2 separate regions of the Homo sapiens genome follow, and region 2 is linked to region 1. The links come from fine-mapping of genetic effects on gene expression. A gene starts in region 1. The other region holds a variant in brackets. All regions are shown on one strand. Distances are between the middles of the regions.

What was found.
Region 2: its variant is fine-mapped to the expression of SGCB in whole blood (INTERVAL, PIP above 0.99).

What each region holds. Positions count from the first base shown.
Region 1 is chr4:52,033,966-52,047,317 of GRCh38, reverse strand. SGCB (sarcoglycan beta) reads left to right here and starts at 9,019. Exons shown (of 6, transcript NM_000232.5): 1 at 9,019-9,091. The coding sequence starts at 9,059. LINC02480 (long intergenic non-protein coding RNA 2480) reads right to left here and starts at 2,513. Exons shown (of 3, transcript NR_147189.1): 1 at 2,283-2,513; 2 at 1,189-1,293; 3 at 399-639. RefSeq lists a silencer at 8,807-9,246 and an enhancer at 9,487-9,606.
Region 2 is chr4:52,051,755-52,068,205 of GRCh38, reverse strand. SPATA18 (spermatogenesis associated 18) reads right to left here. Exons shown (of 13, transcript NM_145263.4): 1 at 16,415-16,451; 2 at 7,682-7,787; 3 at 7,309-7,424; 4 at 5,874-5,986. Among named protein-coding and RNA genes, the nearest start is that of SPATA18, 8.7 kb to the right of the region's middle. RefSeq lists enhancers at 16,110-16,451, 16,252-16,451. The variant C/T (reference allele first, on the strand shown) is at 9,594.

The DNA.
Region 1 (13,352 bases):
TGTGGGAGGGACCCAGTGGGAGGTAATTGAACCATGGAGGCAGGTCTTTCCTATGCTGTTCTCCTGATAGTGAATAAGTCTCCCAAGATCTGGTGTTTTTTAAAAAAGGAGAGTTTTCCTGCACAAGCTATCTCTGCCTGCTGCCATTCATGTAAGATGTGACTTGCTCCTCCTTGCCTTCTGCCAGGATTGTGAGGCATCCCCAGCCATGTGGAACTGTAAGTCAATTTAACCTCTTTCTTTTTTAAATTGCCTAGTCTTGGGTATGTCTTTATCAGCAGCATGAAAATGGACTAATACAGTTACCCCCAAATTTTACAACCCTCAGAAAGAAAAATATTGGCTAAAATACCAGTATTTAAGCAGCTCCCTCAAAACAGAACACACTTTGACTAAATGTCTGTATTGCTCATTTAATAATTAGACTTACAGTGTCTTAAGATAGAATAGATCTTCGAAATCACCTTAGCATATGCTACGTGATATTTATCTCTACATATGCCCCAGTGCCACAATTAGATTCAAGACCTTTAAGACCTGCAGTCATTTCATGTACATCTTGGCTTCCCTAGAATTCAAGGATGTGTTGTGTATAGCAGGAACTTGTGTTTATGATAAGAAGCGTTGGTCTTCCTCCTGCTGATCAAAATAAAGGAAATGTTTCACATGTTTATTCATTATTTACCCTCTCTACCCTAGTACTTCCAAAAAAGGATCTGAGATGGCTTATAGTAAGACACTTGAAAATACTGTCAGATTAGTAATATTTTTAAAGGAAAAAGCAAATATGCCCAAAATGTACGCCCATGTACTAAGAGCGTCATTTTATATTATTTTTCTGGGCTTAGTGGAAGCCAAAGCAGAAAGGAAAATGAGTTTTATGATAATGATTGATGTTTAAAGTACACATACTAGCTGTTTCAATGAAAACATATTTTATTGGTACCAATCTACAATGTGTTTGCTCATTTCCAAAGAGTATTGGACAACCTAGATGAAAGATCTCTTAATAAATTTTTTTAAAAAATATGTAGAAAAAATCTTGATATTATTGTTTTGTGAAACCACCTTTGATGAATGCTGAAGGAGTAACGCTAGAACAGCTCATCAAAGAGCAGGCCAAGTAATTGACACTCCATTTTTAGTTCTCAGGTGATGTTATTTGATACAAGCTTAGAACTTGCATACCTGTTGGAATAAGTGGATGTCTTCGTAAATGCCGTTAATGATGGTCCCCTCTGCAGAGCTTTTGATGGGTGCTAAATAGCAATCAATTTAAGAGAGAGCAAAAGCCTAGAGTGCAAATAGTTTATATTGCTAATTAAAGAGTCCATGTGTGTTAAATTATAAGCATGTAGTCAATATGGCTGAGATTCTATTTTAAAAGTTGATAAGTCTTGGCCGGGAGTGGTGGCTCACGCCTATAATCTCAGCACTTTGAGAGGGCAAGACAGGCATATTACTTGAGGCCAGGAGTTTGAAACCAGCCTGGCCAACATGGCAAAACCCTGTCTCTACTAAAAATGTAAAAATTAGGTGGTGCACATCTGTAGTCCCAGCTACTCGGGAGGCTGAGGCATGAGAATCACTTGAACCCAAGAGGCGGAGGTTGCAGTAAGCCAAGATGGCGCCACTGCACTCTTGTCTTGAGTGACAGAGTGAGGAGACTCTGTCTCAAATAAATAAATAAATAAAAGTTGATAAGCCTCGTTTTTTTCACATATGACAGAAAATATCCGATAAGTAATGATTCTCTTTGGGGAATATTCTGATGCTCAAATTTTGTCCTAATTTGATTATTTTAGGACATTACCAATTAAGCAATTTTGGGAGAAGTTGAAAGAACAGCAAACTCAAAACATAAACACTGTTGCTTTATCTCACACTCTGCCAATTAGTGAATTCTTATGACTTCATATAAATCTTTAATCACTTGGAGACATTTTTTTCATCTATAAAATGAGTAATATGGAATAGATGAGCTCCCAGATCCCCTGCAGTTCTGACAGTCTTTAATACTGTTTTACCATACTGATTAGGTTCAAGATTGAGCAAATCTTGATCTTTGTTTCAATTTTTGGTTCATAGTTCACCTTAGGTCAAGCATTGATTTTGGGCGCATTAGCCAATCACCAAAAGTTGGGCTCCCTTTTTTAGTAAAATTTATTCTGCCAGCTTGCTAGAATAACTACTATTTCTAACCTCCAGTCAAGGAAGTTCTCTATAGTTGCACTTTTAACAAATTTAAACCCAGCTTAAACTGATAAACTTTTCCTAATTACCTCAACCCCTCAGAGCTCATCACTTTCTTCTTTATGCTTTCTCTCTTTAACTTTTGGACATGTTAATATTCTTGCAATTATCATGCTATATTATATTTATTTGCTTCCTATCTAAGCTTTTGAGCTTCATGAGGAAAAGGAGAGAGGCTTATTTAGCTTCATATCCTCAGCACAGCAACTGGCACATAAGAAAGAAGAAACAAGTTGGGAGCCAGGAGGAGGAAGAGAGGAAGGAAAAGGAAACAGATTGGAAAGGAAAGGATGTGATTGGCTGCTTTGTATCTGATGTCATAATCCACTGAGATAGAAGGCAATTTTAACAGCCAATTCGTGGTTCTTACGGTGTCATAATTCTACTACCTAGCCAGGAGTGATTTGTTCTAGAAAGGATAATGTGTCAAGTACGTAGATGGAATAGGGTTTTTGTTTGTTTTTGAGACGGGGTTTCACTCTCGTCACCCAGGCTGGGGTGCAATGGCATCATCTTGGCTCACCTCAACCTCCATCTCTCGAGTTCAAGCAATTCTTCTGCCTCAGCCTCCCGAGTAGCTGAGATTACAGGCATGCACCACTACGCCCGGCTAATTTTATATTTTTAGTAGAAACGGGCTTTCTCCATGTTGGTCAGGCTGCTTTCAAACTCATGACCTCAGGTGATACGCCCACCTCGTCCTCCCAAAGTGCTGGGATTACAGGCGTGAGCCACCATGCCCGGCCTTGGAATAGATTTTAATTTTGTCTACCCTGGATTTTTACCTACATCAGTCAGCTTGAAAGATTTTTAATTGGGCATTTTAAGAAGCCAACAAAAGATGAGCTGAATCCACTGCCTGAAGTGAGAGCTGAAGTGAGAGCTATGTATATTTAGTTCACACTACACCAAACATAAATATATGCAATAAATTACAGGGGATTATATTACGCAGTAGGATTTTCATCTTAATTTCAAGTCTTCTTCACTAAGGACAGTTGCTAACCCTTAGCCAGGGGCTGATAAGAACAACCTGTGTTTGGCTTGGATGCTCTTTTAAGCACTCCTCATCCTTTCCTGGCTGAGCCACGGTATTCTTCTCCTTCTGCTGTCTGTGTTTGGATCTTGTGTCTTTGGATCAGGGCCTGTATTACTATTTGAAGAAAATCTTTTAGTCTTTGCTGACCCACTTGCATAAAGTTGCCTTTAAATGCAATGTTTATCCAAGGTATTGCTTAGGCCCTTTGTGCTCAGAGGCACTTTGTTCTTGTAGGTAGCAAAACACTTCTTTGTCCACTTAAGTGTTTTCTAACCTGAGTGTTCTGTATTCTCCTTTCAGGAGTTCTGTTTTGTCCTTTTCTCTGCCACATTAAGGGAAAGGAAAATATTTTCTAAAAAACACCCATTGGAGAACAAATGAATTTATTGGGAACTGAGTGGGAGGCAGGTTCCCCCACTGACAGAAGGAAGAATGCTGTTTGCTGTGTCATACCAAGGAGCACTACCCACACAGAGCAGCAGTTCAGAATTTTTTTGTACAATTATTTCATGTGCACTATTGATTAAACTATAAAAACAAGAGGAAATTTTAAATATATCACAAGTGTATCACCTTAGCCCCTAAATAAACTATAGAACATTTGCAACAAATACAGATTAGAAGGAGAAAAAACCCAAGGTAGATGTAGTGTGATTTTGGAGAGCTGCAAAATATTTTTCCTATCGCAACCCAGGTTTCCATCATAGGTTTTTCAGAAAAGAAGGCGTCCTCACCCTCCATCTTTTCAGCTCTGCTAGCTAAATGCAATGGCAAGGTCATGGTTCTGTGAAAATCCCCCGAGGAGGAGTAAGCTCAGGACATATCAAGCTATTGCAGAGACACAGTGGATATGGTCTACCTTGCAAGATGTCCTTAAGCACATCAGGAGAGGGATATGGGATAGCACGAGATAGTCCCTAGGATGAGTGATGTTGAAATAGATCCTTTTCAGCACTTTTAATAAACATTTACTGGATTTCTAGTGTGACACAACCATCTGCCTTAAGCATGGACAGAATTAAGCTCAGTCTCTGTTCCCTAGAATCTCATAATCTATTCAAGAAAGAGAAAAGCAACCATACTTCAATGTTGTCAGTTAGAGTAGATAAACGTTCTGCGGAAACAATGACTCCTCCTTTGCCTCCTTTCCCATCTTCTGAAAAAGGATCAGGGAAAGTCATAGAAAGGTAATGTTTAGAGCCTGTTTTGGAAGGATGGAGAGACGTTCACCAGGAAGAGAAGAGCAACTTGAAACAGGAAGAATCATAGCAAAGAGGCATGAAATTGAATGGAGGGGCAGAAAATGACAAATAGTAGTCCAATGTGACTACAGAGTAGTCAGGGAATCAGAGACAAGACTGCAAAGATAGTCCTGGTTTCAACTATGATGGGTCTTATGTATCAGGCTAAAGGAATTGATCTTTATTTCATAGGCAGTGGGGAGGCAGCAAAGGGCTGTAAATAGAAAAACTGTATGATTGGGTCTCTTTTATATCACATTGGAGGTCACAGAGGTTAAGTATGGAAGGGGCAGAACTGGACCCTTGAAAGAGCACTTAGAAGACACAGAGATGAGGGTTAGTCTAGTGGCCTTCTCTGGGGTATGGTATGGTGAGCATTAGATACCGATGTCAGAGATACTTAGATGCTAGTAATATTTTTTACCCAATAGAAAAAATTAATTTAATATTCATCAGAGCTATTAAGTATGTATTATATACTTGGTTCTTAATGTGTTCAGGACTTAGAGCAACATGGAAAATAATAACACATTACCTCTGCTTTGTAAGGAACTCAGTCTAATCAGAAGCAAACTGTATATGCATGAAAAGTAAAGTAACAAGATACTGCACTAAGTATCAAATGGGTGTTACAGCAAATTAGTGCAATAATAGTTAAAAGGAAAGAGGAATAAGGACTGGCTGTGATTGTCAGGAGGAGGTAGGACTGAGGTTGGTTCTGAAAAATGGGAAGAATCTGGAGAGGCATGAATTCACAGATAACTAAAACAGATGGACAAATAAATAAATTTCAGTATAGTGTGATGTGACAATAGCAGCATGCTTGGGGATCACAGAGAGGTCCACACAAATCAGAAATGTATGATTGGGAGAAGGTTTAAGAAAGGCTTTTCAGAAAAGATATCCCTTGATCTGAGTTTTAGTGGACAAGTAGAGACAGCTAGATTAAAAGGAGAAAGAGCCACATATGCAAAGGAACAGAGCCATTAAGAACTTGAGTTCGGGCAAGCAGATGGGGGCTGCAAATATTGCACAGGGATAAAGGGATAGATTACTTTGTCTCTGATTCCCTGACTCCTCTGTAGTCACGTTGGATGTGTGTGTGGGACAGGCAGGAAACAAGGCTAGAAAGGGGCAGAAGGACCAAAAGTTTCTAACCTTTTGGTGAAGGACCAAAATTTGGTGAAGGACCAAATATAAGGAGCTTAAATTTTATCATGAAAGGTATTGGAGTATGGTAAGCTTGAGGGTGAGGAGTGACATGATCAGATTTGTATTTTAGAAAGATCATTCCAGAAATAGTATAGAACTACTTTGAGGTGTCTGACTAGATGGTGATATCATTCACTAAGGGAACACAGGAGGACCAGATTGGGAAGAAAGGTTTTGAGTTCAAATTTTTCATGTGTTGAACTTGAAGTGTGTATTTGTAACACACAAACTTGGTGGCTTTAAACAACAGAAATTTGTTGTCTTACAGTTCCAGAGGTTAGAAGTAAGAAATCAGAGCCTTCTGGAGGCTCTAAGCGTATATCTGCTCCATCCCTCTTTCTTAGCTTCTGGTAGCGGTTGGCAATTATTGGTATTCCTTGCCTAGTAGAGTGATCACTCCAATCTCTGCTTCTATGTTCATATCATCTTAGTGTATGTTGCCATTCTGTCCTCTTATAAGGATAAGGGCTCATCCTAAATTCAGAGTGATCTCAAGATCCTTAAAAACATCTGTCTTAGTTCATTTGGGCTGCTATAACAGAATATGGACTAGGTGGCTTATAAACAACAGAGCTTTATTTCTCACAGTTTTGGAGGTTGGGACATCCAAGATCAACATGCTTAGAGATTTAGTGTCTGGTGAAGGCCTGTTTCCTGATTCATAGATGTCACTGTGTCCTCACATGGTGGAAGAAACAAACCAATTCTCTTGGATCTATTTTATAAAGGCACTAATCCTATTCATGAGAACTAATCATGAATAGTGATAGCTAATCACCCATCATTTCCTTCTATGATGTGAATGTGTCCCCAAAAATTCATGTTCGGAAATTTAATCTCCAATGCAACAGCATTGGGTGGTGTTGCCTTTTGAGAGCTGTTCAGGTCATAGGGGCTTGGCATTCCTCCCCTCAGGATGACAAGGTGTTCAAGGTAACATCCTGGAAACAGAGACCAGACCCTCATCAGACAACTGAACCTGCTTGGACTTCTCAGCCTCCAGAACTGTGGGAAAATAATTTTTTGTGCTTTATAAATTCTTCACTCTCAGATGGTCTGTTATAGAAGCACAAAGTGGACTAAGTCAGCTTCTAAAGGCCCTACCTCCTAATATCATCACACTGGGGGCTAAGATTTCCACATGTGAAATATTCAGGGGAGACACAAACATTCATTCTATAGCAATCTGCAAAGACTCTGTTTCAAAGTAACACCACGTTCACAGATACTGGAGGTTAGGACTTGGATATGCCTTTTTGCAGGGCACTATTCAAACCACTGCAAAGTGAACAAAGGTGTAAGTGTCTTCATAATCTGACTCATACTCCAGCCCTGGGGACCTGTGTTTTGTGCTTCCAAATGCTAATATCATGCAACAGTCAAAAGAAAGAGCAAAATTAAAGGCTGTGATGTATGGTAGAAAGAGCAAAGACTAGTCAGATGGACCTAGATTCAATACTGGCTCTTTAGGAGTTGAAAAGATGGTCAGCCATTTAACCTCTACAAGCCTTGATTTCTTCATTTGTAAAAGAGGCATTGCCAGGCACAGAGTTGACTTTAAATGTCATTATTTCAGGGGAAAAAAGGCTGACAATAGTACATTTGAAAATAACCCACATTAAAATGTGGTCATGTGAGTGAATTGGATCTCTTTAAAAGAGAATAGAAATTGGCATTAAGAATAGTGGGATGTCCTGTCAGAGATGGACATCAGCGATGAGGAAAGAATCCAAGAGAAGGTGATATTCAAATAGCCAAAGGAGCATTTGGTTTCAGGAAAATTGGCTACCAGGTATCTCACCACCTAAGTGGGAGGGAGGTTGGCAAAATCAAGTCAGGGCTTAGAAATTGGGATACTGGGCAGATTTCTAAGATATCTATTAAGTTTAATTACTGTGCTAGACATTGGAGATTAAACGATGAGTAAGACACCTACCTTCCAGATAGAACACACCATCTTTTGAATGAAATCAGCAGGTAGACAAGATAAAAATACAATGCAATCTGAAGTGCTAGAAAAGGCTAGGCACACAGTTAAGGAACAGATCTGTGGGAGCCTCTGAAGCCTTTAGAGAAAATATGACGTTTGAATAGAATAGTTCTTGAAGGATGAATAAGAGTGCGCGTGCCAGGGAAGAAGAACTTTCCCAGCAGAGAGAAAAACGCAAAGCTTAGGAATTAAGGACTAGAAGATAGGAACTCAGAATCAGTTAAAAGCCCAGTTGTGCAAATTGATCAATGAGACCACAGGCAGAATATTAACACAGAGCCTTACTGCTGACTCCTGCATCATTGGGCTTTAACTTAGAATTTTCCTGCCTAAAATGCATGTTTGTCCCACAGACTCAGAGAGGAGTGAGTCTAGAGATATGAGTCAAGTGGTTCCAGCATTTAGGAAAAAAGAAATGCAGAGAGACTGATGACCAGCTAGGTACTGACTCCCACTGAATTAGACAGTACTAGGGCCCAAAGGTGCTTATTAGAAGTGATTCAGCTACATGAGGAACAGTTGCTATTGACTTCACTGCATTTTTTTTCAGCTAAAATAATTATTGGATTATATCTACAACAGGGAACAATGAATGTCTACTCAAGTAACTCGTACATTTGAGTGGCTTCCCGGTGTTCAGTAAATGTCCGTTCAATTAGGTTCCCGAGGATATACATGGTAACACTATCTCCAACACTAAATGAAAAATCCATCCCCAGTATCGCAGGATAAAAACATCAGACTTCATAGGCCTCCGAAGTCAAGCAGCCCGAAGGATTCAACGTCCTCCTTGAGGACTCTCAGTCTTCAAGACTCCAGCCACCTAAGTGACCACTCGTTCACTTCTGCCCACGCAGTCACCACGCCGGTCCGCGTCCACTTGTGGTCTCGATATCGGCCCCTCCCACCCTAGCCAAGGAGACCTTGGTCCGAGAAACAAAGAGAGCCTCACAGCTCCGGATGGCACCGATCTTTCAGCGATGGGGAACAAAGGGGAAGGGGAGAAGCGTCCTCGATTTTTGAGGGTGCCCTTTCTGAGGAATCTGCAGGCGGCCCGGGGTGGAGCGGAATCCCCATAGGCCCCTTCTGGCCCCTGTGCAATACAACGCGCCCCAGGCCAAGGTCCTAGGTGCAGGGGCCGCCGCAGAGCCTGAGCCCGCAGGGCTGGGATGCGGGTCGTCAGGGATGCGGGCTGGGGAGGGGAGGGTGTGAGCAGCGGGTGCCCCCAGTCCCCGCCAGGGCGCAAGCGCAGGCGCGCAGGGTGCGGTCGCGGAGGGGCGGGCACAGTCGGGCGGGGAGCTCGGCGGCGGCGGGCGCGGGAAGATGGCGGCAGCGGCGGCGGCGGCTGCAGAACAGGTCTGTGAGTACCGCCGCGGCCGCGGGCTGGAGGAGCGGGGGAGGCCGCGTCCTGCCGGCTGGGCCCGCGGGAGCCCTGGCCGGGGGTGCGGGGGGCGCGGGCCGCAGGGTCTGGGTTCGGCGGGGCCGATCGGGGCGGGGCGGGGCGGGAGGAGCTGTGCCCCGCCGAGGATGCTGGCACAAGCTAGGGACCAGGAGCCAGGGGCGGCCTCGGGCTCGGCCCGGCCTGGCTGATCCTCGGAGGGGGTGAGGAGGGGTCTCCTTCCGGAGAGCCTGGGAGGCGGTCGAGCCAGCCTGGAAGCCTGCGCTGGGACGTGCCAGGGACGTACCCCGTTCAGCCGCCAGCAGAGATTTGGATAAAAATAACCGCAGCCCCAGCGAGAAGGCTCCTCTTACAAGAAACGGGTCAGCTGTTGCCCCGGTGTCAGCTTGCCATCTTTGTTTTTTGTTTCTGCCATCTCCAATATGCAGACATCCCAGATTTCCCCTCACGCTTTGGTTTTTGAAGATTTAGTCACCAGTCTAAAACTATCTCCTGTTCACTTTTAAAAATGATTTATCCAAGATTTCCTGACCTGCATTGTAAACTTGTAACTTAGAATGGTTTAAAAGGCTCCTCATCCCCCCAAAATCTAGTTATACGTATGCATACATGTACATGCATATGTGTGTGTGTTAATATATACATACACGTAATCGCTAGGGTGATTTATTGTAATACAGATAATTTTCAGTAACTTTCCCCCTTACCTAACTTACTTTTCCTTTGAACAATTATAGTAGTTTCTCTTTAAAAAGTCTCATTCTAAAACATTGTTGAAAAAAATGAGTCAAGTTTTGACCTTTGGAACGATTTTCTTAGATAATTAACTTTTTAGAGACCTATTAGATATATGTCACTGGAGGGCTCATTCTGAAGATAAAAGACGTAAAATCTCTCTTCAAGGAGCTTAAAGTCATACAGCCAAATACATGCAGAAAAAATCAGCTAAAGACAATAGGCAGGCTGCAGATTTGTAACAGTAAAATAAAACATAGAGGAATGAGTGAAACTGAAAGGAGACAAAACTTCTTGGAGTTGGTATTTAAATTGTGCCTTGGCTTTCCTCATTTCCCGCCTAAGTTATCAGCTTCTGTTTCAGATGATTGTTTTTCCATCTGGTTCTATTTTTGCTTTACACATAAGTGGGGCAGTCTGATCCGTTACTCAGTCTCCACTTCAAATTTACGCATTACGTCTCCAGCCCTGAACTTAACTGAATTTTCCATAGGCACCTCAAACTCAAAAATGTTCAAAACTGGACTCTGTCATACTTACTATTAAAAAGGCTACAACCATCCATTCACTTGTTTAACCTAGCCAGAAACTTAGGACCAAGGCCATTTTAAGGGAGCTGAGAAGGACCTGCACTTGGTTTAATGTTCTGCTGTCCTGGGCTTGAGATTTAAACAGTGAGCCCCACATTTTCTTTTCCCCCTGGGCCCCACAAATTATATAGCCAGTCCTATTTGGGAGTCATCTTCGACCCCTTTGTGCCACACTCATATCCAAACAATCACGAGATCCTGACAGTTCTACCTCTTAACACCTTTCCCCAGACTTCAGCTTCAAAGTCAAACCTCAGTCAGTACCTCATTGGGACTCTTAGAGAAACCTGCTGTTGATATCTTCACTTCTAGGCTCTTCAGTTCCAGTTCATCTCTTTTTGGAGTGATTTTACTACAATGCAAATCTGATTGTATAGGAAACCTATTTTAACTCTTCAGTAGTTCCCCTTTGCCTTCAGGATAAAGTCCATTGTTCTTGTCATGGTATTTATGTTGCTTACTGGCCCCTAAGCACATCTCTCATTGTATTTCTTGCTTCATCCCTACACCTATCCTTCTCACCATCCACATAAAGTGACCAAAATTAGTTCTCCCAGAGATGGTTGCCTCTCAAAGTCTCCATGCTTCTTCCTCTGCCTAGAGTGACCTTCTTAGCTCTTTTGCCTGGTTAACTCCTGTCCATCCTTCAAGAGTTAACTCAACCTTCAGCTTTTCTTAGAAACTTTCCCTGATGCCCTTGCCTGCTAGGTGGAGATGCATTCCTCTTCTGTACCCTTTCTGTATTGTATGCATTGCTCCACTACAGCACTTGTCATGCTTTGTGAACTGTTAGTCACCTTGTCTGTCTACCTGACTGGCCTGTAATTAAGCTCCTTGAGGGTGGACACTATGTTCATCCTGGTAGCTTGGAGCACCTGGCTTATAGTAACTATTCAATAAATGTTAAATGCATCAAGATGAAGACAGTAATGTGCATGGTTTGGCAGAGAAGAGTAAAGACTACGTCTCAGGAGGGATGAATTTTGTCCTTTCTCTCTTTTATGTGGACCTATATTCAAACTTTGGCTAACACTTTTAAGTTGCCCATCTGTTAGGGCTGTCAGAAGCCTGAGGTTCTTTTTTGGAACCTGACTACAAATTCTGTTAAGTCTTCTCTTAAAGTATCTACTTAATCTCTCCTTTTTCATCCCACTTTAGTTTAGGTCCTCTTAACCTCAATCCTCCATTACTACAACATCCCCAGCAGCTTACTTACTGGTACTCCTCTTTCTTCTCTCTCGTACAAATGCCCACACCTTTAACACTCTGAATTTGTGCTCAAAAACCTCCAGTGACTCCCAATTAAATAGAACATAAAGACTAGAATTTGTACCCTGCTGTCCAAGAACCTTCACAACCTGGCCCTACTTTTCCAACTTCCTCTTCCCTGCCTTGCCATATCTGACCCATCTACTTCTCCCCATTTCCCTAACAACTCCAGGTCATCCTGTCTCTCCTCCCTTTGAACTCTGCAGTGTGTATTGCCTAGACTATTGATTTTGGCACCTGAACATACAGAGTGCTTTATTGCATTGTTAAATATTTTATGTTAACATGTACACAAATCATATCTGTTAATACATAGAGGATAAGGACCCTTTCCTATAGTTCTTTTGTATTCCTATCTATGGAATTAGTGTTTAAGCGTAAAGTGCTTAATACATGCGTATTCAACAACTGAATTTTCTCAGAGCTTTAAGAAATAAGTAGGACAGTATCCATTTCTGCCCATTTCTTTTGTGCTCTTGATATTCAAGATTATTACCCAAAATGTCATTCAACCATAGTCTAGGTCAGAGGTTCTCAAATCATTTTGGTCTCAGGTTCTCTTTACACTCTTAAAAAATGGAGGATTCCAAAGAGCTTTGGTTTATGTGGGTTATATTCATTGATATTTACTATAGGAGAAGTTAAAATGGAGAAATTTTTAAAGTACAGGGCTATACAAGCATACATTCTGTTGAGTGATGATGCCATCACATTGGTCATGTAGCCTTTACATTCATGGGCCTAGGAGAGTAAAAACAGCAAACAGTATCTCAGTGTTATTTCAAAAATACAGCCCCCCAAAGGGTTTGTGGAACCCTCCCAGGACTCCCCACCCTGCATTTGAAAACTACTGATCTAGGGTAATGTGAGCTCTAGTCAGTGAAATTATAAGTAACAAACTATGTCAGCCTTTCCGGTCTTATTTTCATATAAATGAAAATATATACCGTTGTCCCTCAATATCTATGGGGGATTGGTCTCAGGACCCCCAAAGGATAGCCAAATCCATTGATGCTCAAGTCCCTTATATAAAGTGGTGCAGTTTTTGCATGTAACCTCTGCACATCCTCCTGTATACTTTAAATCCATCTGCAGATTACTTACAACACTGAACACAATGTAAACACTATGTAAACAGTTGTTATACTGTATTGTTTAGGGAATAATGACAAGGAAAAAGTCGTACATGTTCTGTACAAATGCAACCATTCCCTTTTTTTTTTTTTTTTTTTTTTTTTTTTTTTTTTTTTTTTTTTTTGAGACGGAGTCTCGCTCTGTCGCCCAGGCTGGAGTGCAGTGGCGGGATCTCGGCTCACTGCAAGCTCCGCCTCCCGGGTTCACGCCATTCTCCTGCCTCAGCCTCCGGAGTAGCTGGGATTACAGGTGCGTGCCACCATGCCCAGCTAATTTTCTTGTGTTTTTAGTAGAGACAGGGTTTCACCATCTTGGCCAGGCTGGTCTTGAACTCCTGACCTCGTGATCCACCCGCCTCAGCCTCCCAAAGTGCTGGGATTACAGGCCTGAGCCACCGCGCCTGGCCTCAAATATTTTTGATCCACAGTGGTTAAATCCATGGATATGGATCCCATGGATATGGAGGGCCAGTTGTATACGTAAAAAAATT
Region 2 (16,451 bases), 19 kb before region 1:
TCTTAAAAGTAAATATGTGAAAATGAACATTTTTATCAAGAGAAAATGAACTGTAGAAAATGGATCAAGAAAAGGAGGAAAATACAAGCAGGAATGAAGAACTTGGGTATTTTTCTCCTAACACATACAAGCGGATGCACATATAAGCAAACATACATGCTAATTTCACACGCTTGGATGACATAAAGAAAGAAGAAAGAAAAGTACATCCATATGCTAACAATTGTTTTAATCAGGCTGACGTTCTATTTAAATGTTTTGTTGCATATCTGATCATTCATTGAGCAGATTATTGAGGACTTACTATGAGCCAGGCATGATGCTCAGTACTGGGGATACAACAGTGTCAATTCAGCAATGCAAGACAGTAACCCTTTGGATCTTCCAGGCTAGTTGGGGAGATAGATCATAAATATGCAAGCAAGTTTATTTTTTTAAGTTCCCAGTTGTGACTTCACTCTCTAACTTTTCTCATAAGTGCTATTATGAGAAAAGCAGATCACCATGGAAGAGTATTAAAGGAGAGAAGAAAGACCTTTCAACGTATGGTGGTCACAGAAGGACTCTGAGAAAGGCACATTTAAGCTGAGACTTGGAGGATAATAAAGAGCCAGGCATGCAAAGAGCCAGTGGAAGACTGAAAAGTTCTTTCAGGCAATGGAAGAGCACAGGCAAAAGCCTCAAAGTGAGGAAGTAGACAGTAGACTGGGTCAGGGGAAAGTGACAGGAGATGACACTGGAGCAGAAATACAGCCAGATCAGGAGGGGTGTTATGAGAGCCCTGGTGAGAAATTTAGAATTTTTTCTAAGTATAAAGGGAAGAGAATACTTAAACAAACTTAAAAGAAAAAAACAAACAACCCCATCAAAAAATGGGCAAAGAACATGAACAAACACTTCTCAAGAGAAGACATTTATGTGACCCACAAACATATAAAAACAAGTTCAACATCACTGATTATTAGAGAAATGCAAATCAAAGCCACAATGAGATACCATCTCATGCTAGTCAGAATGGCGATTATTAAAAAGTCAAGAAACAACAGATGCTGGCGAGGCTGCAAAGAAATAGGAACTTTTTCACACTGTTAGTGGAAATATAAATTAGTTCAACCATTGTGAAACACAGTGTGGTGATTCCTCAAGGATCTAGAACCGAAATACCATTTGACCCAGCAATCCCATTACTGGGTATATACCCAAGGGAATATAAATAATTCTATTATTGATACATGCACATGTATGTTTACTGTAGCACTATTCACAATAGCAAAGACATGGAATCAGCCCAAATGCCCATCAATGATGGACTGAATAAAGAAAATGTGGTACATATGCACCATGGAATGCTATGCAGCCAAAAAAGGAATAAGATTATGTCCTTTGCATGGAGATGGATGAAGCTAGAAGCCATTATCTTCAGCAAACTAACGCAGGAACAGAAAACCAAACACCACATGTTCTCACTCATAAGTGGGAGCTGAACAACGGGAACACAGGGACACAGGGAGGGGAACAATACACACTGGGCTCTGTTGGGGGTTGGGGGAAGGGAGAGCATCAGGATAAATAGCTAATGCATGTGGGGCTTAATATCTAGGTGATGAGTTAATCTGTGCAGCAAACCACCATGGTACACGTTTACCTATATAACAAACCTGCACATCCTGCACGTGTATCCCGGAACTTAAAATAAAATATAATATTTTTAAAAGGAGGAGACTAACGGCTTTTAATCAGAAGGATGATTTGATATGGCTGGGCGCCGTGGCTCACGCCTGTAATCCCAGCACTTTGGGAGGCTGAGGTGGGCGGATCATGAGGTCAGGAGATCGAGACCATCCTGGCTAACATGGTGAAACACCATCTCTACTAAAAATACAAAAAATTAGCCAGGCATGGTGGCGGGTGCCTGTAATCCCAGCTATTCAGGAGGCTGAGGCAGGAGAATGGCATGAACCCAGGAGGCATAGCTTGCAGTGAGCCGAGATCGCACCACTGCACCCCAGCCTGGGTGACAGAGCGAGACTCTGTCTCAAAACAAAAACAAAAACAAAAAAGAAGGATGACTTGATACAATAAAACATATACATATTTGCTAAGTGGAAAACGGATGGTGGTTGACCAAGAATGGAAGTGGGGAAGCCAGTCAGAAGGAAGGCAATTGGTTCAGGAAAGAGATGTCAGAGGATTGAACCAGGGCAGGGGTGGCGGAATAGAAAGAAAGGGGCAAGTGTGAAAGTTTAGGCGATAGATTCAATTGGACATTCTGATAGATTGGATATAGGAGAGGAGGAAAAGCAAGATTCATAACCAGAATCCAGGCATAAAATCTAAAAATCTTCCCTTGCTTGGGGGTTCATCAAACCTGTGCAGACTTGTGGCCATTTGCCCATAATTATTGGAATTTGCATTTTGGAACTAAGTCAGAACCAAAGCAGTCTCTACAAGGTTAGACATAGGGAACCTCCTTGGGTGGCCCATTCATTCCATCGTGGGCAGCACCCTGGCTTAAGAGACAAGTAGGCAAAGTAAGGGAGGGAAGAGAGAGCTGGCTACCATAGAATGTGGAGAACAAATTCTTTTAGTGATACCTTAAATTTAAAAACAGAATAAGAACTACAGGTGAGTTAAAACTAAACAAAGTGGAGAAAGGACACCCTATTCAACAAACGGTGTTGGGAAAACTGGCAAACCACATGTAGAAGGATGAAACTGGATCCTCACCTCTCACCTTATGCAAAAATCAACTCAAGATGGATCAAAGACTTATATCTAAGAGCTGAAACCACAAACAGTCTAGAAGATAACACCAGAAACTCTTTTAGATATTGGTTTAGGCAAAGAATTCATGCCTAAGAACCCAAAAGCAAATGCAACAAAAACCAAAATAAATAAAATGGGACCTAATTAAACTAAGAAGCTTCTGCACAGCAGAAGAAACAAAGAAACAAAAATAAACTTCTGCTCAGCGGAGTAAACAGACAACCCACAGAATGGGAGAAAATATTCACAAACTATGCATTTGACAAAGAACTAATATCCAGAATCTACAAGGAACGCAAAAAAAAATCAGCAAGAAAAAAAACCATTAAAAAGTGGGCAAAGGACATGAATGGACAATTCTCAAAAGAAGATACACAAACAGCCAATACACATATGAAAAAAATGCTCAGCATCACTAATTATCAGGGAAATGCAATTTAAAATCACAATGCAATACCATCTTACTCCTGCAAGAATTGTCATAACTAAAAAATCAAAAAACAATAGATGTTGGAGTAAATGTGGAGAAAAGGGAACACTTTTATGCAGCTGGTAGGAATGTAAACTAGTACAACCACTATTGAAAACAATGTGGAGATTCCTTAACTAAAAGTAGAACTACAATTTGATCCAGCAATCCCACTACTGCATACCTGCCCAAAGAAAAAGAAGCCATCTTATGAAAAGGACACATGCACATGTATGTTTATAGCAGTACAAATCGCAATTGCAGAGATATGGAACCAACCTAAGTGCCCATCAACCAAGGAGTGGATAAAGAAAATGTGGTATATATACACCATGGAATACTGCTCAGCCATACAATGAAATGAAATAATGGCCTTTGCAGCAACTTGGATGGAGCTGGAGGCCATTATTCTAAGTGAAGTAACTCAGGAATGGAAAACCAAATACCATATGGTTCTCACTTATAAGTGGGAGTTAAGCTATGAGGATGCAAAGGCTTAAGAATGATATAATGGACTTTGGGGACTTGGAGGGAAAGGAAGGAGGAGGGTGAGGGATAAAAGACTACATATTGGCTATAGTGTATACCGCTCAGGTGACAGGTGCACCAAAATCTCAGAAATCACCACCAAACAATTTATCCATGTAACCAAATACCACTTGTTCTCCAAAATCTATTGAAATAACATAAAAATAGAAACTAAGAAAACCAGGGAAAAGCAGCAAGCATCTTCATGTATGCAACTTCCAAATGGTTGGTGGAGAGAATATATATATATATATATATAGAAAGAGAAGGAACACATACGTGATAAAGCATATAGGGCAAAAGGCATATGAAAGGGCATATGGAAATGTTTAGCGCTATTCTAGCAGATTTGCTGTGTTTGAAATTATTTTCAAATGAAAAGTTTTTTTAAAGCATGCATTAAGTTTCTTGATCTATGGTACCCCTTATAGGTAACAACAGTGTCACTGAAACAAGAAAGAGAAGTGGGAAACCCTGGCCCCTACTGGTGCTGACAGCCATCAAGAACCAGTAAAGTTTTGATGCCCTTCCTCACAACTAGAGGAAAATGGAGGGTCATCTGCAGCCGTTGCTAGCTAATGTCCCAGGATACCTCCCCAGACAAGACATGCACAACTCAGGACCCATCAGCACGAGACACTAGTGCCTACATGAAATTAAGGCCAGCAAGAACCCAGAGGGCAGTATAAGACCAAAAACTCCTCATGTCCGTCACCAGGAGAGTATACAAGCATCCCTTCCCTAGAAAGGATGAGGGGAAGGGAGACCCCATGAGAGGGCAAAAATAGCTCTTAATGCATGTTTGCACTTGGAATGAGCTGAATGTTTACAGAAAATGGACTACGATAAACCAAAAATGACTGTGTGACCTTGAAGTGGCTTATTGAAGAATCCTTCAAAATGAGCTCACATTGGTTGAAATAAATTATATATTTTATGCTTTTTGCATGTTACATTTATAAATTTTGACTGCTTCAGGTATATAACTGCTCATTGATTATGATTCCAGTTGGAAATATGAATGGATATGTGTGGAGGTGCAGGCACAAAGAAAAATGTCTGGAGTAAAATATACCAAAATGTTAATGGGGACAAGAAAACAAGTGATTTTCATCAATTTTTATTTGTTGTATGCATTTTGAGAAAGAAATTTGTATTACTTTTATAATCAGGCAAAACTAAATCAATAGAGATTTCTTCCTTAGAAAAATGGAAATGTCATCAGGGAACAAGGCAGAGCACCACACATTATTCCATCCTAGCCTTAACTAGTTATTAATTTTTTTTAAAAAAAGATTTCCTTTCTGTCCCATTTATGTCAGCAATGAAGCAATGCTGTGGTAGGAGAAATTCCCATTGATGGATTTTTGTTAGGTATGTCAAACACAGTTTCATACATATTTGTCTACCTGCCTCAAGTACAAACCCAAAGTCCACATACAATTTTCTTTGCAGTGATTCCCTAAGCTTGCTACCCTGGCTCTGCCCACAACATGCATCTGATATGTGTTGTTGCCTGGAATTGCTTAACTTTTAAAAAATACATTCTTATACCTAATAGATATTGCAAAATCTTGAATTCTTCCTTTCTTAAAAGACTCTGACTCTCTCAGATTCAGAGAAGCACACATACACCCCTAAATGAGTATAATGGACTGATAGATGCAGCCTGCTTCATTTGACTTTTGCTGTCTTTCTCTTAATTCTCCTCTTTGCCTGATTGTTCACTCTCTTTTATTCTTTCCCTTTCACATCTTTTTAAAAATTTTTCTCCCAATAGGTAGATTTTTGTCTAACAATCTTTACCTGTTTGTCAATATAGGCTGATGATGTGCCTATGAAGAAGGAACTCCAAAGAAGGAACCAGGGGACCATGTATCATAATATATCCTGTCCCCAAATCCACAGACACTGACCACTGACTCTCTCTCTCTGTCTCTCTCTCCCTCTCTCTCTGTCATACACACATGCCCACAGACACACACACAATCATATTACTTATTTGCAAATGCCCACATTTTACATGAGCCATTATTCTCCTTTCGAATTTAAAACTTAATTAAATTGAAAACAATTCTTTTTGGAAAAAGATAACTTGCATTCCTCTTACTCGTCTTGAACCTGGTTGCATTGACTCCGGGTTGAGTTCAAATTAGAGTCTAACTGTTGCATATCCCGATCCCGAGGACTGGGATCTTTATGTCTCTCCCTATCAAACGTGTCCTGGAAAGATACACCAAAAAAAAAAAAAAAAAACAGTCTGAATACATTAAATGACATGGATGAATTTTTAAAAAACAGCCCAACTCAAAAGAGCACAATTATGCACGGCTCCATGCACATGAAGTTCTAGTACAGGCAAAATTAATCTAGAGTGATAAAAATCAGAAGATGGTTGCCCTGGGGAAGGTGCAAGAAATGCTCTAGAGTGATGGAGATGTCTGATATCCCAATAGGGATGGGAATTTACACAGGTATATGCATTTGCTGAAATAGCAATCTATGGATTTCACTGAATATAAATTATACCTCAATTTCCAAAAACAGTTTGAAATTCTACATCTTTATACCTAGAATAACACCCACACAGAGGATAAAAACCTGAGAAGCGTCCATAAATTCTCAGGGAAAAAAAATTACTTAATGATAACTGAAGTCTATAAAGTACTTAACATGTGTCAGGCCCTGTGTAACTTGTTTAGTGTGCTTATCACATTTAATTCTCACAAATGAACCTTTTAGATCAGCAAAACCATTGTCTCCATTCAGCAAATAAGAAAATTGAGACATAAATGTTTAGATACCTACCCAGGGCCATAAAAGAGGGACTGGTTTTCTGCTCAGTGATCTCCAAGCAGGGATCCTTCAGCCACTATCTTATAATGCTCTTGCTCAGAACAGACTAAATGCTTTCTTTCTGTTATTATTATTATTATTATTATTATTATTATTATTTTTACTTTAGGTTCTGGGATACACATGCACAATGTGCAGGTTTTTTACATAGGTATACGTGTGCCATGGTGGTTTGCTGCACCTATCAACCTGTCACCTAGGTTTTAAGCCCCACATGCATTAGCTATTTGTCCTAACGCTCTCTCTCCCCTCACCCCTGCAATCCCCCAACAGGCCCTGCTGTGTTGTTCCCCTCCCTGTGTCCATGTATTCTCATTGTTCAGCTCCCACTTATGAGTGAGAACATGTGATGTTTGGTTTTCTCAGAACAGACTAAATGCTTTCTAAATGCTTCTGTTTTAGAAAGGATTATAGGTAAATCCATATAAATGTTTCAAAGTAAAGTAACTAATGTTTTGGTTGCCCAGATGTAATGATGTGGATGCCTTAAGCAAGGTATGTGCGCTCTTTCTAGTCTGATCTCTACCTGTTCAAAAACTAACACCGTCCCATGGAAACCACCAATATCCATCACAAATTGTGACACTCTATCAGTCTACCAAAATCAAGTCCTCTTCTTCTCTTGGAGGTTTCTGATTCGTTTTATCTCACTGTTCAGAAAGTCAAGGGTTATCCTTCAGCATCCCTACCTGCAGAGAGGGGACCTTGCTGTCAACAGATTTTCCCAGGGAAGCAGCAGTAAAGGAAGCCTCCAGCCAAGGCAAAAGGCGTGACTTGATTGTTTCCACACCATCATTACGTCCTCCTAAAATGTTAAATGACGAGTTAATGGGTGCAGCACACCAACATGGCACATGTATACATATGTAACTAACCTGCACGTTGTGTACATGTACCCTAAAACTTAAAGTATAATTAAAAAAAAAAGAGAGAATACACACATCAGGTCATCAGGTCAGTGAGAGAAACCCAACCACACCAACAGTCAAAGAACACAAAAAAGCACCAAGAAAAGAGAGAAAGGCAAGCAGAACTGGATGGGAAATTACAGGCCATTCTCACCTTCTTGGGCTGCTGCTGTGAGGATCCCAAAGAGTTGTCCCTGCACCTTGGCAACTTGCTCAATGAGTTCAAGGCAATGGTTTAGATTTTGATCACACGTGTTTGTCTGCAAGGGCAAAACAGTAGATAACCAGGGTAATTACTTCACTCTGGGACCCACTGCAGACAGACCAGGGCCTCACTTGACCCACGAGCTGCCTGGCTCTGGTATGCTTTTGTGGCAGGACTGCTGTGTAGTCACCAAAACCTATCTCCCTTTCCTCCTGGACACAAAACTAGACCACATTTCACAGTTTCCCTAGCAGTTCGTGTGGCCATGTAACTGAATTCTGGTTAACTGGATGGGAAGTGATATATGCCTGGGGCCTGGCCCAGAAGAGAACCTCTTGAATGACTTTTTTTTCTTTTCCCTTCTGCCAACTGAATGCAGAAGAGCCAAGAGAGGATGCTGAGGGCATAAGGGATGGTGGAGCCACAAGATTTGCAAGGCTGCTGACTGAATGCTTGCACTGAATTGTCACATGGTTGAGAAAGTTGGTTTGTGTGTAAGCCACTGAGATTTGGAGGTTGTTTTTTATAGCAATAATCCTACTCAGTAAAACCCTACAAAAATACATTTAAAAAGTAAATAGACCTGTTATAAGACAATACAAATGACTGCCGAATTTACCTGCTTTATTGGTTCCTGTCCTCTACATAAATTCAATTTGTATATATTATATATGCATAGAGAACATTACTTCTTAACAGCAAGAAGGTATTGCTGGGTTGAGGATATAAGGGACTTGGCACTTGCAGACTCGTGGGGCAGACAGATGAATAGCCAGTTACTCTGCAGCGGAATAATAAGTCTTACCTACACAGATGAGCGCAAGCTCTACCCAAGAGTCCATTGTCTTGGAAAGTCTGGGAAGGCTTCCAAGAGGAAGTGAAATCTAGTCCAAGGTGAAATTAGCCAGACTTGGAAAAGGAAGTGGTTCCAGTGGTTGTGAAACATTCTAAGCAATGAGAACAAAACATGAGGAGGCCAAGAAGTGAACCTTTTAGCTATTATTCTGCTTTCCTCATTCCTTTGAAAGATTCTACCATTTCAACATAAGCCAAATCTCTAACTGACTCCAACATTAGAAGAAGGAATACAACTACAAGCAACAAACATCATGTGGTTGTAAAAATGCATCGATTTATGTGTCACCTCAGGGCTCAATAAGGCATCGGTCCTTGGTGCCTCCTGGACACAACAAATCCCAGAACAGAAAACAGCGTACAAGGCAGATAGAAACTAGGAGTGGAGTAAGAGAAAAGTTGAGATAATCTCTAGGCAAAAGTTTACAAGTCAAAAGCACATCTGCATCAACCAAGGAAATGGTTCAGACAGGCAGAAGCTCCTTGAGGACAGAGACTGGGCCTGTCCTGTTGGTTGTTGTATTCCCACCCCTGCATTCTACAGTGCCCCTGTATTCAGAATCATTGTGTATTGGATGGATGCATATAAATGAGATGATTCACTCACTTTGTATTTATTATATCTCTCCTATATGCCAGGCTCTATTAGTGCTTTACATATATAAACTCAGCTAATTCTCTCACTAGTACAATAGGAGCTAGAAGAATTATTATTATCATTCCCATTTCAGATGAGAAAGCTGAGGCACAGAGAGGTTAAGTAACTGGTTCTTGGCTACCCAGCTAGTAAATTATCAGAGCTGAGATTGGACCCCAGCAGCCCAGCTTCCAGAGCCCATGCTCTTAACTACTAAACTATACTGACTTTTAGATCATGATTCTTGCTGGGAGTACATGGAGGACTGGATGATGCAACCAAGAGTGAATGGGGAGGGCATCCAGGGAAGGCTTCTCTGTGGAGGGGACCCTTGAGTATTCCTGGGTTATAAGATTCAGGGAAGCACAC[C/T]ACTAGGGAAAGAGCTTACCAGGCAGTGGGAACAGCAAGGACAAAGGTTCTGTGACAGGAACAAGTTTGGCAACCTTGAATATGTCAATGTGGCAGAGGCACAGAAGGACATTTAGAGGTTGGCAGGGCAAGTTGACCTGGAGAGCCTTTCGCACCTGGCATGGAGTTTGGATGGGATGGACTTGTAACTGAGAGGGCAGCTGGGTTAATTTCCATGCTTGGTAAATGGTACCTGATGACTAATTCTGTTGTAGCATTGATTTCTCCTGCAGCCATTTTTTCTCCATCTCATCCATCTAATCTCTCCTCCCAAAAAGATCATGAGTTCTTTTTAAAAATGATATTGCTTTGCTCATGTTTGTATCTATTGCCACTAGTATCCTAGCAAATTGAAGGGTCTAAACAACGTTGATGAATGAATAATTTAACAGTGTAATGTTGACATGATAGAGCATTTAAAACCCATAGCCTGAACAGCTATCTCCATTTCTTCCTCGTTAATTCAGCAGCTCCTTGCCCTGGCCATTTTATACCTGCACTTATTACACTGAACTTCAATTACCTGCTTACAAGCCTTTTGCCCTCTGGCTAGATCATTCCATGTGCTAAGTGGACGGAGAATGAGCTTGGGAGTCAAGCAAACCTGAGTATCTCAGCTCTGCTGCTTGCCACAGTTCTATGTGACCCTGCACAAGTTACTTAACTTCTCTGAGCCCATTCCTCTCCCATGCAATGGGGATAATAATGCCTTGTGGAGCATTAGAATTAAATCAAAATAATACACGCCCAGCACCTCAGACACAGAAGGTGTTCATCAATTGGCACCTATGAGGTAGCATGCAGTATTGAAAGGAGCCAGTGGCTTAGGAATAAGGCAGACCTTTGTTCAAATCTGGTTCTCAACTTATCAGCTGCATTCCCTTAGAAAAGACATTTAAATATGAGGCTCTGTTTCCCTCTGTTTAGGAGGTAGCTGATCTCATGAGCAGAGTCTAGCATAAAAGAGGTACACAATAATTAGAAGTATTATTGTGGTATCATTACTATCTATTCCTATGCCTTGCCCAGTGCCTGGTACATACTGGGTACCCAGAGGAATGGTGGTCAAATGAGTTTTTAAACACATCTTAAATAACAGGAGAGAATATCCTATGCCACACAGTTCCCCTTCCCAAGACATGTTACAACATGCTGCAACTTCTAAACACAAAGCATTGCACAAGATAATCAAGTTGCAATAGGGTCACATTATTCTAGTAAACACATACTTACATACCCACACAAGACAACCAGAGCAAAGATATGGACTAATTATACTGTCTCCAAAGCACAGACTCTCCAGATTTATTCATTCATAAATCATTGAGTTTCTATTATATGTAAGGCCCTGGAAACAAAGCTCAGGAAACAAAGCTATATTAAAAAAAAAAAGTTGCCTGCAGTCAGTGAACTAATTAGATGGGGAAGTGAGATGGAGAACAAGATAAGAACAAGGGGATAAATAATTACCTTAGAGTTTATATTAAGTGCTCTGTGTGGATAACAAGCTATAGGAGCAGAAAAATAACCTCTGGTGAGGTGTGAAGGGTAAGAGGGAAGGGCATTTCAAGAGGAGGAACAGAAGGCACCAAGGCATATTAGCGGAAAGTGAGTACAGGGTCCAGAGACCAAGTCTGAAAGACTTGACTTGCCACATTAAGGGTCTTGGGCTTTATTCCATCATCAAAATGTTTAAGGATGCAACAGAGGAAGGTGGGTGTGACATGCTCATATTTGCTTTGCATGTTACAAAAATCTGTCTGGCAAAAGCAGACCAGATAGACTTTGGGTCACAGGGTGAGTCTGGTGGGGAGGTAGATGGGTATAACCATCTAGCTGAGAGATGCTGGAGGCTATAGACATACTAAGGGTCTCCCAAAGGTCCTTCCCAGCCCCAAATTACACCTGTGCCAGTAAAGGTCCCACCGATTTCAGCATTACCTAAGAAGGTCAGAGAGTTTAGAAATGAGTAAGAGGTATGAGAGGGATGATCCTGAGTTTGGGTTTGAACAAGTCAGGGGGCCTGCAGGACCTTCGGATGGAATGTCCAGTAGTGGTACCTAATAATTACTGATCACCTACTATATGCCAGCCAGGCCCTGTGCTAAGAGCTTTATATACATGGCTCCATTTAATCCTCAGAACAATCCTACAAATGGGATGCCATCATCATCCAAAATTCACCACTGAGGAAAAACAAATTAAGTAATTTGAAGAGACAATGGTGGAGACCCATTCCTGCAGCCTCCAGCACTGGAGCTGAGCTCTCAAACACAATGCTTTCCCCAAAGCAGATGGAAAGTAAGTCTGGAGCTTAGAAGAGAGACAGGACTGGGAGGTGTGGCTTTGGGAGGCTTCAGCAAGTGGGAGAGTGCAGAAGCCACATGCACAGATGAGATTACCAGGGAGAGGAAAGAGTGAGGAGAGGGCTGAGGGCAGAATGAGGGGCAATTTTGCTATGTCAGAAGTGGTCTGAGTAAGAAGAGCCAGTGAATAAAAAACAAAACAAGAGCAATCAGAAATGAGAGGACACCCAGGAAGCAAGATGAAGAAGAATAAGGAGGCCGAAGAAGCAGATGGTTTCAAGAAGCAGAAGGGCATGGTTTATTCATGCATTTATACTCTCAAGAAATTTTATGGAGACGCCACTATGCAGTAGATGCTAGGGACACAATGTCTCCTGCCCTGGAGGAATTTAGAGTCTAAGATAAACACGAAAATAAATGCAAAAACACATGCTACTTACTATAATAAAAATTGGTCCAGATTTCAGAGGTAAAACTCAAAAGAGAAGCTGGTAAGGGCCACGAAGTTTCAGGAAAGCCTTTGCCTGAGGAGCTTTGTGGGCTCCCACTCCTAGAAATTGATTTAATTGCTCTCGCGTGGGGCCTGGTCATTGGAAACATAAAAGCTTTTTAGACAATTCCTATATGCAATGAAGATTGATAACCACAGCATTAGTGGGTAACAAAACCAATTTAGTGAGTCTCAAACAGCAAATAATACTAAAAAGAAAATAGAGAAACACACCACAATGAGTAAAGGTAAGAATTATTAATGAAACTTGAGTTTTTAAGTATAAGGGTTTATGTGTGCTATATTGTGAAGTAAAATGCATTGAGTCCTGTAGGTAAGTTTTAAAAACAATGTTCTAGGGGACAATGCCTTGCCTGTGTTGAGAATCACTAGTATTGGCAATGAGAGCCATAAAAATGATGCTTCAAACAGCTGTATCAAAGTTGGATTGGAAGTGGGCATGAATGAAGGCAGGGAAATGAATAAGAAGTTTCCACGTTATAAGTGTAGAACTGAAATAAGTAAACTTCAAACACATTCTAATGGCTTTGTGCAGACAGGAAAGCAAGAGTTAATAGAAAAGAATAAAATATTCAGGAATACAACCACCAACATTATTAACATAAAGACATGTTCTTTTAAAGTCACTAACCCCTGTCACACAAATATGGGCTAAGAGCCTCCTTTGGCTACCATGATTGCTGCAAAAATACTGCTAGTTCTGTTACAGGCAAAATTTTCTGGACTGCATGAAGCTACTGTTAAAATAGAGATCTTAAGACTAATATAACAGACTCTTTACAGCAATAAGATAAAGACCTAAGGTCATGCCAGGCAAGGATTAAGTCACATACCCCTACACATAAAGAATCAACCATGTTCTAATTGTCAAAAGGTTTTTTCTTTTTATCTAGTAGCTAAGCAAGTACTGGCCTCGAGATAAACAATGTTAAAACAATTGCAACTCACTGACCACCAGACTCTGACTAACTGATCCCCTCCCGTTCCACAGTCCATAACTGCAACTTCAACTGGATAAGAGACTGATTTCAGTAACTTTCTCTTGATAAGAGATCACGGACCATAGGCTGGTTCTGGCCGGTCCACAGAGGCTGTACACTAAGTTCCTTCATGTCCCTGCCTCCACCTTTGATGTATAGGGCCTAATTGTAATACATTTAAATGTTAAGCTTCTACCCCAAAATGAATATAGGATGAACGTAACATGCATGTTTGCTTACTATGCTTGTGAGCGTTCCCCCTTCGTGAATATTACCTGTTGAATATGTATACATGTGGCCAACCCATTCATCATTAATTCCTGCCTTACCTTTCCTACCTCCAAGTGCCTGCCTCTGGTTTCAGCAGGGGCCTGCTTCCCAGCCTGCAGGTTGCTACCCTTTCTAAGAAATAAAGCTCTCCTAAGAAAGTGAGGATGTTACTATCTCACTCAAATATCAACAGGTGAAAAGTTTTTCAGGCAGAGAAAACAGTGAGTGCAAATGCCCTGAAGCAGAAGCATGTCCACATCTCTAGAACTGTGCTGTCTGAGACAGCAGCCATGAGCTGCATGTGGCTATCTGAATTTAAATTGGACTTAAGTCAAATTAAAAATTCTGTTCTTCAGTGTGTACTTGCCACATTTCAAGTGCCCAATAGTCACCTTATTGGACAATGCAGATATAGAACCTGTCCATCATCATAGAAAGTTCTATTGGACAGCATTGCTCTAGGACGAGCAAGAAAGCTGGTACTGCTGGAGTGGGCTGAGCAAGGGAGAGAGTAACAGATAAGGTTAAAGAGCTTAAAGGGGCACAATTGTGTAGGACTTTGAAGGTCACTGTAGGAGCTTTGGCTTCTTCTGACTGAAATAGGAAATTTGGAGTGTCTTGCAAAAAGAGTAACTTGATCTGACTTGACATTTAGAAGCATCTCTTTGGGTTGTTATTTTTGTAATAATCCAGGTGAAAGATGATCAAGGATGGAGAAGGGTGGTAGCAGTGGGGGTGGTGAAAAGTGTTTAGATTCCGTATGAACTTTGAAGTTAGAACCAACAGATTATGATGGTGAAAAGGGAGTGGAGTATATAATGATGAAGACGACTTAGAAAAATGAGACCTGTGGTTGGGGCATGGGAGAGGCTAAATTCCATTTTGGACAGATTTGACTTTGAGCATTCTGAGCATTTCAATAGCATTCACTATTGAAAGATGTCCAATGGGCAGTTGGAGAAGTGAGAGCTCAGATGGGAACACATCCTATAGAAATAAGATTCATCAGCATACTTGTAACAGATGAAGCAGGAGTGGAGGGGGAAGAATACAGGTGTCAACATTCCAATGTGATAATGATGCCTGCAAACTCAAGAGAAATGATGGAACCTGGGGAGTGGCCACAAGGTATGAAAAACACTGGTGGCTGTGAGTGCAGCCTCTACTGTAGAGAGATGAAGGGAAAACAGCTGGATGGAAATGGTTTTAATGAGAGCAGAGAATGGGATGTTATCAAGACAGGAAAATGTAATAAACTAAGGCACTTCTCATCACTTACAGGGAGTTTCTAAAATAATTGTTTATTAGTTCCAGACAAATCCTAGTGTTATTTGTAATAAACATTGTGACAAACAACATGTTTTTTTAAAATTCAGAGTTTAGTTAGGCCACTGGGCAAAAAAAAAGGGGTAAATACTGTATACATGTTAGAATTTCTTATTCTCAACCTCCTGAGACTAAGTAGTAGGTACTTTTAAAATTAGTTGGGGGGAACCCAAGTCTTTTATGATAAAGAGGTCATTTTAACTTTCCAGAATTCTTAATGGAGAAGGAATGGTCAGCGCTTGTTCTTTAAAAGGGAGCAAAGGACTGAACAGGAAGCACTAGAAAGGAAGGCTAAGGAGAAAGCTGTAGCTGCTCTTTGAGCTCCCCTCCACTTCAGGAGCACTGGTTAAAGGGTGAATGGGGAAGCCTAAGGACCTCATAACAGGCAGGATCTCAGAAACAAGCTAATCTAGGCTCAAAAACTTAAAATCTGAACAGGAAATTTACATATCATCTAGACCAATCTCTGCTATTTCACAGATGAGGTACTAAGACCAAGAGAAGTTAAATAATTTGACTCCGTCATTCAGCTAGTTCTATGCAGAGCCAAATGTAGAAACAAGGGGGGGCTAATTTCCGGTCCACAGTTCTTTTGCCTGGCCGCTCCACTTATTATGTAAGAGGGGAAATCCCTATTTAAGACGGACCGACCGAATGTAAAGCAAATTCAACACTCACCGTTCTATTTGGGGGAAGGGGGGAATTATGGGGAGGCAGGGTGCGAGTAGGGATTAATGAGATTTGAAAAGTGCTCATGGGTTTGGTGACAGAATACTGGCTTCTCACAAATGCCTGGAAAAAGGCCTGAATCCGCCCTGGTGTTGGAACTGTGCCTCAATTTCCAGGCCCACCAGCACGCAAGTGAAACCCGCAACGTTAACAAGTGTCCGTTTCGCTGATTTCTGGGTAAATAACTCCTGGGTGTGTGTTTATACAAATCCATTCTGATACAAACCCTGGGCAGGAGAGGGTTGTAGTAAAAAATAATTCGGGATTGGGGAAGCAGGCGGTGTGGATTGCGCTGGCAAGGGGGATGGGAAAGAGTGGCAGGCATGACCAGACCAGCCGCGGACAGCAGGGCTTCCCTATTGCTAGGTCGCCGGCGTCCTTAGTTACCACTGATTGGAAGCACTCTCCAGTCTCCGCAGCCTAGTGCTGCGCTCCGCAGGCCGCCTGCGCGCCGCCTCCCGAAGCTCTGAGACAAGGGCATGTACACACATGTCCTTCCTTCCCCAGCGATCCCGGTCGAAAGCTGAGATCCTGGTTAGGAATCGCAACCGCGGAGGCTTTGCAAAGTGGCCACCAACTCCAGCCCTAAGAAATCCCCGACAAGGGCTGTGCTGGAACCTATGGGAGGGCGAACCCCGGGGGTTTTTCACCCAGACTCACGTTGTACTCCTTCAGCCAGAAGTCTAGCTTTTCCTGC